Linked DNA regions of Homo sapiens. The protein of the gene in region 3 purifies or fractionates together with the protein of the main gene of each other region. This does not show direct contact. Each region holds a gene or a part of one and is shown on either strand. Other genes may lie near its edges.

Region 1 (3,500 bases), on a different chromosome or scaffold from region 3:
CTGCTAAGTGGTTTCTTTCCCAAGGTACTAAAGGGCTATTTTGACATCCTTATGAGAGCTTTATGAGTGTGTTTTTATTTTTTCTACTAGCAGATCAGCTCCTTGATCATCTGAATTTAAATTTTAAAAAGGCACGAAGCAAAGTTAATAAAGTGGATGGTAATTAAGGCACTTATTAATTACCATTATGTAAAGGATAAGGCAATAATTGTGTTATGACCAGTTAGGAAACCGGATAAAATCTCCTGTAGAATCTAATTGTTGAGATCCATGTAAAATCAGGAAGCTAATGATCTTCTCTTTGGCAGTGAACAGAATAGTGAATTCCGATTGGTATAGAACATGAACAGATGCGTTCTGGGAGGGACTGGCCGTCACTCGCTGCGTGTATTAGTCACAGATTTAGGGGCCAGGCTGGGGTCGGCAGAGCACTGTGTGCCCTGATGTGCTGCACATCTGGTTGGCAGGGCCCCGGGGAACCACGGGACATATTTCTGAAGGTGGCCAGTGGTCCAAGCCCGGAGATCAAAGACTTCTTTGTCATCATTTACTCGTAAGTGCACAGGCTTTGGGGACCTGGAGGCGGTGGCGGAGGAGAGGAGGAGGCAGGCCTGGGGCTGCTGGTGGATTGAAAGTGGGCTTGGCCCCTTCCTAAAATTGGGGGAGCTTTCGGGCCTTCGCTTTGTGAGGCGGGATTCTGCTGCGAGTTCAGGGCCCGCAGGGGTCTAGGGAAGGCACCTTGGAGGGGCACGTGCAGCCTGAGGGACTTGGGATGCAGCTCCTGCCACCAAGGAGAGACACCAGTCAGCCTCTGTCCCCAGATAGTGGCAAGGGCCACCCAGAAGCCCCTCATTACCTTTTTCTTGCTGAGTCCCTAGGCTGAACAGCATGAATGAAGCTGTGGTCCCTCCTGCGGAGAGGCAGGACTGTGGTGGAAATGCCCATCCCTCTCTCCTCCAGGCTAAATGACCCGGCCCCTTTCCCCTCCCCTCCTAAGTCGGATCCCCAAGCCCTGTGAGAATCCTTTCAAACTGGTGTGAGCTCGGAGATTTCCTGCAGTGCTTCTGAGGATGGGGCAGGGGCTAACCTGCACTCAGTGCCCACCACAGAGGGGCCACGTGACCACGTCTCAGAGTGGCTTCCTCGTGAGCCCATGAAGATGCCTCACCCAGCCCCATTTGACTGTGAAGCAGCAGGCTCTTGGCCCTAAAATGCTAACAGGGGCTTCCGTGCTCAGGCCGGCATGACCTCCAGCCCCACCCTGTCTCCTGCGTGGCGCTGCCCTTGGCTTAGCCTCAGAACCCCTATTGGGGGTGGACACTTGTCCAGGATGTGTGTTTGGCCAAAGCGTGCCTTGTCATTTGTTTGACATGTGGTTCCTAAGCAGCCCTGCTGCGCCCTGAGAGCCTCTGCTGTGGGTGGGAGATGGGCAGCCAGGGGTGGAGCCACCAGGCCCTAGCTCTGCCTCCTGGGGCCTGGTCCTCCGGGGCTTTCCCTGCGTGGCCCCAGCTCTGCCTCCTGTGGCCTGGTCCTCTGGGGCTTTCCCTGCACAGCCTCCTGTCTGCCCACGCTCCTGGCAGCCCTTGTTGGCCTCTCGTGGGCCGGTGCTGAGTCCTCCGGGACAAGTGCAGATGGCTCCCATCCCACTGCAGGGATCGCTGGCTGGCGACACCCACACAGACGTGGCAGGTCTACCTCCACTCCCTGCAGCGCGTGGATGTCTCCTGCGTCGCAGGCCAGCTGACCCGCCTGTCCCTTGTCCTTCGGGGGACACAGACAGTGAGGAAAGTGAGAGCTTTCACCTCTCATCCCCAGGAGCTGAAGGTACGGCCTCTCTGGGGGCTGTTCTGAGCCTCTCCCCAACCCCAGCCTGGAGACGGGCAGTGGGCATTCAGCTGGAGCACAGTGGGTGGCCCTGACAGCAGCTTTTCCAGCGCCTCCAGCGCGCAGACGCTGTTACCAGAGGCCTCTCGGCAGTTGCCTTTCGTTAGATGTGCCATTGTGGGGTGAGTGACGTACACACCAACCCCAAAGGCCGGTGTTCAGAATTCCTGGCAAGGTGAACAGTGACAGGAGCTCTGGTGTTAGTGAAGCCACAGTTAGACGGGGTGGGAGGGCGGCCCCTGGTGCCACCAGCTGGCCGGGGTTTTAAGCCCAAGATGGCTTCAGTTCTGTCTGCGGAGGCAGCGCTTAGGGAATAGTCGCCGTGTGAGAGGAGGGACTTGCCTGGTGTGGACCCAAGTCGCGGCCACAGTCATGTCAGGGTTGGTTGTGGCCTCAGATTTGGCCGCCCCGGAACCACCCATGACCTTGGGCTCCCCTGGCTGATTGGGCTGCAGGCGCCCAGGAGCCCCTTGCTTGCACATCCTGAGAGGCTGTGCTCTGACCCGCCTCTCTCGCTCTTGAAGACAGACCCCAAAGGTGTCTTCGTGCTGCCGCCTCGTGGGGTGCAGGACCTGCATGTTGGCGTGAGGCCCCTTAGGGCCGGCAGCCGCTTTGTCCATCTCAACCTGGTGGACGTGGATTGCCACCAGCTGGTGGCCTCCTGGCTCGTGTGCCTCTGCTGCCGCCAGCCGCTCATCTCCAAGGTCTGTATGTGTGGCAGGCACAGGCTGAGGGGATGGGGGCTCAATACCAGGGCACTGCAGGACCCCCACCTCGGCCCTGTGACTCGGACCACTGGATACAGTGTTCTGACCCAGCAGGGCCGGGTGCATGAGTGTTTGCTCCTGTGCTGTGTCTCTCCCGGATGGAAGCTCCAGAGAGCGTCTGTCTTATCTCTGTGGGGGTCCCCGTGCACGGTGCACAGGAGACTCAGGGAATACTTGGAGGAAGGGCCAGTGGCTGTTCCCGTGAGTGGCCGCAGCGTCTCCCTGTCCCCTCCCTCCACAGGCCTTTGAGATCATGTTGGCTGCGGGCGAAGGGAAGGGTGTCAACAAGAGGATCACCTACACCAACCCCTACCCCTCCCGGAGGACATTCCACCTGCACAGCGACCACCCGGAGCTGCTGCGGTTCAGAGAGGACTCCTTCCAGGTGTGGTGGGGCTGTGCCTGGGACTCCTAGGGGAAGACCCGGGGACCTGAATGGAGGGCAGTTAGCCTGCATTTAGGAGCGAGTTCCTCAAATCACCAGCAGTCTTCCAAAAGCCCCAGGGCGGTGACAGGTACCATCCCATAGTTGGGTGGGCCCGTTGTATCTTTAGTAGCTGGAGATTTAGCAAAGTTTCTCCTGAGTGTGGGAAAGGGTGTTGTGCCCAGGGCTTTTCATGGTAATGTTAGACAGCTCAGTCTCGGAAATAAGTGTGCCTTCGAGTCCAAGTAACGCGTCACACTGGCTGAGCACTGGTTCCCATCCTTGTACCGGGCGCTGAAGTCAAAGGCAGGCCTTGGATGCACCCGCAGGGCTCCCCTGCCTTGTCAGCTCCCCTTGGAAATAAACACGACCATGCAGAGAGGTTGCTGGTGAGAGCGTGGGACAGCCCGGGGGTGGATGCTGGG
Region 2 (3,723 bases), on a different chromosome or scaffold from region 3:
GCATTTTATAATCTATAATTTTTTCTTTTTTTTTTTCTGAGACGGAGTCCTTGCTCTGTCACTGGGCTGGAGTGCAGTGGCGCGATCTCGGCTCACTGCAACCTCTGCCTCCCAGGTTCAAGCAATTCTCCTGCCTCAGCCTCTCAAGTAGCTGGGATTACAGGTGTCCGCCACCACGCCTGGCTATTTTTTTATATTTTTGGTAGAGACAGGGTTCCGCTGTGCTGGCAAGGCTGCTCTCGAACTCCTGACCTCGTGATCCACCCACCTCTGCCTCCCAAAGTCCTTTTTTTTTTTTGAGATGGAGTCCCACTCTGTCGCCCAGGCTGGAGTACAATCGCATGATCTCAGCTCACTGCAACCTCTGCCTCCCGGGTTCAGGTGATTCTCCTGCCTCAGCCTCCCGAGTAACTGGGATTACAGGTGCCCACCACCACGCCCCACCAATTTTTATATTTTCAGTAGAGACGGGGTTTCACCATGTTGGTCAGGCTGGTCTCGAACTCCTGACCTCAGGTGATCCACCCGCCTTGGCCTCCCAAAGTGCTGGGATTACAGGTGTGAGCCATCGCGTCTGGCCTAATCTATAATTTTCTTAGTTATTTGCTAATGTTTCTGTTTTTTCTCACCCATTAAAATGTAAACACCATGAGGGAAGACCTTGTTTAGATTACTGTAACTCTAGGGCCTAACCCATAGTACGAGTGCAATAAATATTTATGTTTTTTTGTGTTTGTTTTGAGACACAGTCTCGCACTGTCATCGGGGCTGGAGTGCAGTGGCACAGTCTCGGCTGACTGCAACTTCTGCCTCCCGGGTTCAAGCAATTCTCCTGCCTCAGCCTCCCAAGTAGCTGGGATTACAGGCACCCACCATCATGCTCAGCTAATTTTTTTTTTTTTTTTGTATTTTTAGTAGAGACGGGGTTTCACCATGTTGGCCAGGCTGGTCTTGAACTCCTGACCTCACGATTTGCCCACCTAGGCCTCCCAAAGTGCTGGGATTACAGGCGTGAACCACTGTGCCCGGCCAGGAGTACAATAAATATTTGTTGAATGAATGAATGAATGAATCAACAAGTCTAATATTTTGAATCCCCAAATACTACAACGATCAGCTGCTCTTTGAAACCTAGTTCTTGAGGCAGCTGCTACCAGAGCTTCCTGGACTGAATGGATCTTACATTACAAATTGTAGGTTCTTTGGAATTCCTTCAACTCTCCCAGAAAAATAAACAACTTCGTTACGACATAAGGACATTACCTTAATATATTCACTTTGAGCATGGTGACTCTCATGCATAACGGGCAACACTTTTCCAATTTTATCTTCTTTCTTCTTACACTGCACCCTATATTGCTTAATCTTTGACATCAAATTATCTTTTTCAAGCATCCATGACTTCTCTTTATTTTGGTTTTCAGATCTGAGTTGCAGAAAATCTTTGGTGCTCTCATAGAGCAGTTCTTGGGTGTGGTGAAGACTAGGAAAGAAAGTATAAATGCAGACATGAGGATGCGCACACAGCACACCTGAAAGCAAGGATTATTCCAAAATGGAAGAGAGTGGTTCTTTTAAAATGGTGTGATATATAAATTTTGTAAAATATTAGCAGGTTTAAAAATCTGATCACTGGCAATCTTACATGTTTTACTGGGTAAAGTATAATGTATCTACCCATGCTCACTGGTTCATAGACTGGTCTTTACAGGTACTTTCCTGAGTGCGAACTTCAGATTATATGATTAGAAGGACTACAGGGATATTTACACATAGCCTGCGTTAACTATGGACCATTCCTAGGAATAAGACAAGGAAGAACTAAATCACGGTGTTCTGACAAGTTAATACAAATTCTATAGTATCAAAAACAGCTTTGCTTTTGTGTATGCTGTGCTCCATGTAGAACTGCCTATATCAAAATCTTATCCTTTGTTTATTTTAAAAAGAACTTTTTTTTTTTTTTTTTTTTAAGACAGGGTCTTGCTCTGTCACGTAGGTTGGAGTGCAGAGGCACGATCACAGCTCACAGCAGCCCTGACCTTCTGGGCTCAAGCAATCCTTCTGTCTCAGCCTCCTAAGCAGCTGGGACCACCTCCCAGGGTGTTTGCCAGCTCATTAAAAATTTGTGTGTGTGTGGAGATGGGGTCTTGCTATGTTCCTTAGGCTTGTCTGGTCTGGAACTCCTGGGCTCATACACTCCTCTCGCCCCAGCCTCCCAAAATACTGGGATTACAAGTGTGAACCACTGCACCTGGCCTACTTTTTTAAAAATCAACTTCCTGTATGAAGTCATTTCCAACAACTTTAGCCTATTTTAATTCCTCCATTCTCTGAAACTCCATCCCAGGTTAATGTTCCCTTGTCTTATAATTCAACACTTGCTCATCTGTCATATTTTAACTGTCAACATGCACTTTTTCCCAGCCTGAGTGAAAGCATATACCTTATTTATTATTTTTGCCCCAATGCCATGAGATTGTCAAGGATAATACTAACTACTGGACATACACAGGCAGTTAACAGATTCATGGTGACTATTTCCTGAAATTTAGGAATAGACAACGTCTCTATCTTTAAAAAACAATATCCCTGGAAGTTAGCAACTCATCAGTTTAACATTACCACCCAGAAAAATGCTATACTGAATGATCTGGCTGCTTGCAAGAGTATTAAATACCATGAAGCAATCACTGTATTTTTCTACCAAACAAATAATGTGAGATCCACTTATTTTCATGAGTAACAGAGTGCACAGATAAGAGGAAATGACAGCAGAGTGCCAAGCACACAGTAGAGTAAATGTCACAAGGTGAATATATACAGTCAGGTATGTGTGCATGTGTATGTAGAGAGAGATTGATTCAATTACCACAAGGGTCTCTCTCACTTTCAATGAGTTATTTTATTCTGTCTTACATTATCTTCTCAATCTCAAACTGGGAAACTATAGGCTTGTTAAAATACAAGTAGCTTGAAAGTGATACCCAAAGGGCAGTCATTAACGGCCCTGGATTTCATGCCCTTCTTAGGAAGATCCATCTAATGGAAGGAACCGATCATGTGCTCAGATATGCAGATAACGCTAAACAAGGAAGGTTACTGGTATTCTGGAAAACAGATATAAAATTACAAATTACTATGACAATATTAAAATATCTGTTCCTTAAAAACAAAACCCATTGAAATGTCAAGATGCTATACTTAAGTGCAAAAATACTAAAAATAAAAATGAAGGTGGAGAAATACTGGCCAAATGCAAACACATTATACTATGTTAAAAGAAACATAGCAGACCGGGCGCGATGGCTCCCGCCTGTAATCCCAACACTTTGGGAGGCTGAGGTGGGCAGGTTACCTGAGGTCAGGATCGAGACCAGCTTGGCCAACATGGTGAAACCCTGTCTCTACTAAGAAGGAAATCCCAGCACTTTGGGAGGCCGAGGCGGGCAGATCACGAGGTCAGATCGAGACCATCCTGGCTAACACGGTGAAACCTTGTCTCTACTAAAAATACAATTAAAAAAAAAAAATTAGCCGGGCGTGGTGGTGGGCGCCTGTAGTCCCAGCTACTCAGGAGGCTGAGGCAGGAGAATGGCATGAACCCGGGAGGCGGAGCTTGCAGTGAGCCGAGATTGTGCCACTGCACTCCAGCCTGGACGACACAGCGAGACTCTGTCTCAAAAAAAAAAAAAAAAAAAAGACAAAGGATCAGCAATAGGA
Region 3 (3,723 bases):
TGCACATCTACCCTTGCCAGGCTGGCCCAGGCACAAGCTCACCACCCGGGTACCTCCCCTGCCTCTTCTACAAAGAGAGCAGCAGAGACTTGCACACCTACCCGAGGCTTACAGACACCCACCAAGGGGACTCCCACATGCACATCAGCAGGGACACAGCACAGTCTGGCATGCAAACATTAGGCATGTAGCATTTGCCCACAGGAGCCAGAGGCTCTCAAACCAGGGAACCTAGACACACGCACACACGTGCGCGCACGCACACACACACACACACACGCTGTGACATTTCATCCACACACAGAAACAGGAAATCCTGGTCTGTGTCTCCCTGGAGCTAATGTGTACAAACTACTACTGTTTTCAGTGGCTCACTAGACTTACTTCTACAAGGCTGCTGGGAACACTAAGGAGTGTGGCCAGGGCCTTGACTTTGTAACCTTCTGGAGCTGGGGGTCTTGGGGTCCTGGGTGGTGGGTGGATGGGGGTGGTAGGTCTTGAAGTCAGAAGAAGCTACACCGAAGTCCCCCAGGTCCCTGATGCCCAGCTCCTGGGCCCAGGGCCAGTGGGGCTGAGTGAAGTGGACCGATTGTCGAGCTGCCCACAGAAGAAACACTGCCCGGGGGCAACTCCCTTCTAATCTCCTTGGAATTTCCTGCTGGCCCTATCTCCCCCTTCTCCCCCTGTTCCCTTGCTGGGGGCTGCAGAGGGCCATGCCACTCCCATCTATAAAGGGTGCCCCATTCTGGCTGGGGAATGATGGAGGCAAGGGTAGAGGTGGCTAGAGGAGCTATGGGAGCTCAGAGGAGGGACTTGGCAGACTTCCTGGAGGAGGAGGTGTCCTTGGAGCTGGGGAGTTAGCCTCAAGTGGCTGTCTCTGTGCCCAGCTCTTAGAACAGTGCCTGCCATGTTGTAGGGGCTCAATAAATATGTGTACAATTAAGTGAAAGGCAGTAGGCAGGGCCTGGAGGTGGACCACAGGCTTGAAACGGAAAAGCTGGAGGGAGTGGTGGGAGCTGGCAGGGATGGGGAGAGTCTGGGAAGGGGCGTTGGGCTGGCTTGGGAAGGGCATTGAATGCCAAGCCAAGGGAGCACCTTGCTGGGAGTGGTCTTGTTGCAGCAAAGCTGCAGCCACCTCCTTTTATGTGTCTGCAGCCCTGGGCCTGAGGCCTGCCCTGCCGGAGAGGCCTGGGGAGGGAGGAGAGCCAGGCTGTGTGGTCTAGGGGCCAACTCCACCTCTGGAGTCAAGTCTGGAGCCAAACCTCACTGTGTCACCTCCTCCGTGTGCATGCTGTCCCTGTGCAAACCCCTCACCAAGACTCCGTCTTCCTCCTGTAAAATGGGGATGTGATCCTTTCTAGTGGGGCACTTGGGAGGCTGACAGCTCAGATGTTCTGTGCACCTAGCACCATCCTGGCACAGAGGAGGGGAGGAGGCCCCGTGTCTTGCATAGCCTCCGGGGCAGAGAGAGTCCCCTAGGAAAGGGGCGCAGCTAAGTTCAAGCAAGGGCCTGCCCAGCAGCCAAGGTTTTCACTGAGGTCATTCCCCTAGTCCCCACATGCATGACCTCATCCATGGTCACGTTCACTCCCCTTGGTGCCGGAAGGAACTTGGAGCTGGGGTGCTCCATGCCAGGCTGACCCTGGCATCACTGGAGGCCTCAGTCAGCACTGCATCTACCTGCTTTGCGGTAGTGAGGCACAGCAGGGGTCAGAGCAGGTGGAAGCAGCAGGCCAGCCCTTTGTTCTCCGAGGTCCAGGGTGGTTGGGAGAGAGCACTGTGATCTGGAGCCAAGCTGACTGGGCTGGAATCCCAGCTCTGCCTTTTCCTTTCTGAGCTTTCCCTTTCTGAGCCTCGGTCTCGTCATCTGTAGAATGGGGATGTGGATGTCCTTGCCCCGCACGTTGCCGTGAGGGTTCCGTAAGAGAAAGTGTGCAGGTGTGGGTCCCATTAGCCAGGTCTGGCTCCTGGGAAGGACCCGACAGCACTTGGCGCTTGCCTGTTATATCTGGCTCTGGTGTGACCCCCGTGACCCCAGGTTAAGCTGGGTGCTTGATGACAGGGGCTGTGCTTGGCTCTGGGTGTCCCTCTGTGGGTGTTGGCTTGGGGCATCAGTCTGAGTGTTATGCACAGAGCTGCACTGCATTTTGGGCACCCCCAAACGTATATCCCTGTCTGTGTCCCCCCTTCCCTCCCCCACGGCGTCGTGTCACTCTTCCCTGAATGGCCCAGGCTAGTGCCTCCAGCTTAGTAACTGGTGATACACATTTGCTAATGGAAGGACACCTTTGGCGGCCCCTCATTCTCAAATGGAGGTGAATCATCTCTCACTGCCTGAGCCACAAGGAAAAGCTCAGCCTCTATGAAAAAAATTCTGGGGTTCCCTAGCTAGGCTGGATCAGCTGAACATCTTTACTCTGGTTGGGGCCCAGGCCTGCTTTGGGTCTTCTGGGCTCGAGTCAGTTGCACCAGCCTCTCCCCTCCCCGCCTCTCCTTGACCCTACCCCATGGTGGAGCAGCCTGTGTGGTCCTGCCTCCCACAGCCTCACCCACCCCTGCCCCGCCCAAGCTCTGCGGGTGCTGGACACACCCCGGCCTCTGTCCCGTGCTCTTGCTCTTCCCATCCGGCCTTTGTGCTTGCAGTTCCCGGCTCCTTCCCTTGGTTTCTTCCTCCACCTTTGAGCGCTCAGCCCCAGCAGCAGCTCCCCAGGTCAGGCTCCTGTGTCAGACACCTTGGAGCTCCCTGGAGCTTCCTTTGGGGCATTTACCACGATGTTGATTAGATTATTAATGGGGTAATGATAGGTTTCATGCCATCACTGCCCCACCTTTCCCTGCATGAGGGCAGGGACCTTCCAGGGTAATTAGCTCCTTCCTTTTACAAAGGGAGAAACTAAGGCCCAGAGAGGTTAAGGGGCTTGTTAGAGGTCATGCAGCCTGTAAGTGGCAAGAGGCAAGACTGGGGTCTTGTGCTTCTCTCCAGGATGCCAGGCAGGGGGAATGGCAGGGGTGTGAAGTGCTGGGGTGTCCTGGAGCTTCAGGCTTTGTGGCCTTGGGCCACTCTCTTTGGAGCTTTGCCTTCTATCCCTAAAGACCTCAGACCCCTGCTCTGAGTTTTTGAGATTTCGCTGCAACCCAGAGGGTGTTTGGGGGATGTTTTAAACACATCCAGGTCCAGATGCTGCCTTCCTTCCTGTTCACATGGAAAGGATGGGAGGAAACTGTCAGGCGCTTCCTGACACGAATGCCCCAGAGGCCGTAGGGCCTGTGGATATCTCCCTGCTCTGCCAGGTAAGGCCTTGAATGGGAGAGTGACAACAGTGACAAGCCAGATGTGGCCTTGGTGGGCAGTGGTCTCTTACCAACAACAACCACCACACACACACACACACACACACACACACACACACACACACCCCTCCCTGATAGAGCATCTGTAGTGTCTCTTGTGCAGAACTGTACCAGACGGATCTGGGAGGCTCACTCCTGACTGGCTGCGTAGACCTTATCTTCCTGGGCCTCCGTTTGCTTGTCTGTGAAATGGGGATAAAATAATAATAGTGCCTGCCTCTAAGGATCATCACTGAGCAAGAGATAATGGCTTTTCTGTCTCAGTCCGGTGTCTGGAACGCATTAAACGCTTGTCAATGTTAGCTATTGTTATCGTCACCATTGTTCATTATAAGACTGTCTAGTCCAGCTTATAGGAGCTCCAACTGGACC

Evidence for each region.
Region 1: the proteins of MTCL2 (region 3) and NPHP4 purify together in Homo sapiens (co-immunoprecipitation; one large-scale study listed by IntAct). This does not show direct contact.
Region 2: the proteins of MTCL2 (region 3) and CCDC77 purify together in Homo sapiens (affinity purification with mass spectrometry; one large-scale study listed by BioGRID and IntAct). This does not show direct contact.

What each region holds. Positions count from the first base shown.
Region 1 is NC_000001.11:5,863,426-5,866,925, reverse strand, and holds part of NPHP4 (nephrocystin-4), read left to right. Parts: intron 1-467; coding exon 468-553; intron 554-1,652; coding exon 1,653-1,824; exon of another isoform or gene 1,825-2,402; intron 2,403-2,408; coding exon 2,409-2,588; intron 2,589-2,892; coding exon 2,893-3,036; intron 3,037-3,500. UniProt on the Homo sapiens protein: Involved in the organization of apical junctions; the function is proposed to implicate a NPHP1-4-8 module. Does not seem to be strictly required for ciliogenesis. Required for building functional cilia.
Region 2 is NC_000012.12:436,095-439,817, reverse strand, and holds part of CCDC77 (coiled-coil domain-containing protein 77), read right to left. Parts: intron 1,484-3,723; coding exon 1,264-1,483; intron 1-1,263.
Region 3 is NC_000020.11:36,853,396-36,857,118, reverse strand, and holds part of MTCL2 (microtubule cross-linking factor 2), read left to right. Parts: intron 1-3,723. UniProt on the Homo sapiens protein: Microtubule-associated factor that enables integration of the centrosomal and Golgi-associated microtubules on the Golgi membrane, supporting directional migration. Preferentially acts on the perinuclear microtubules accumulated around the Golgi.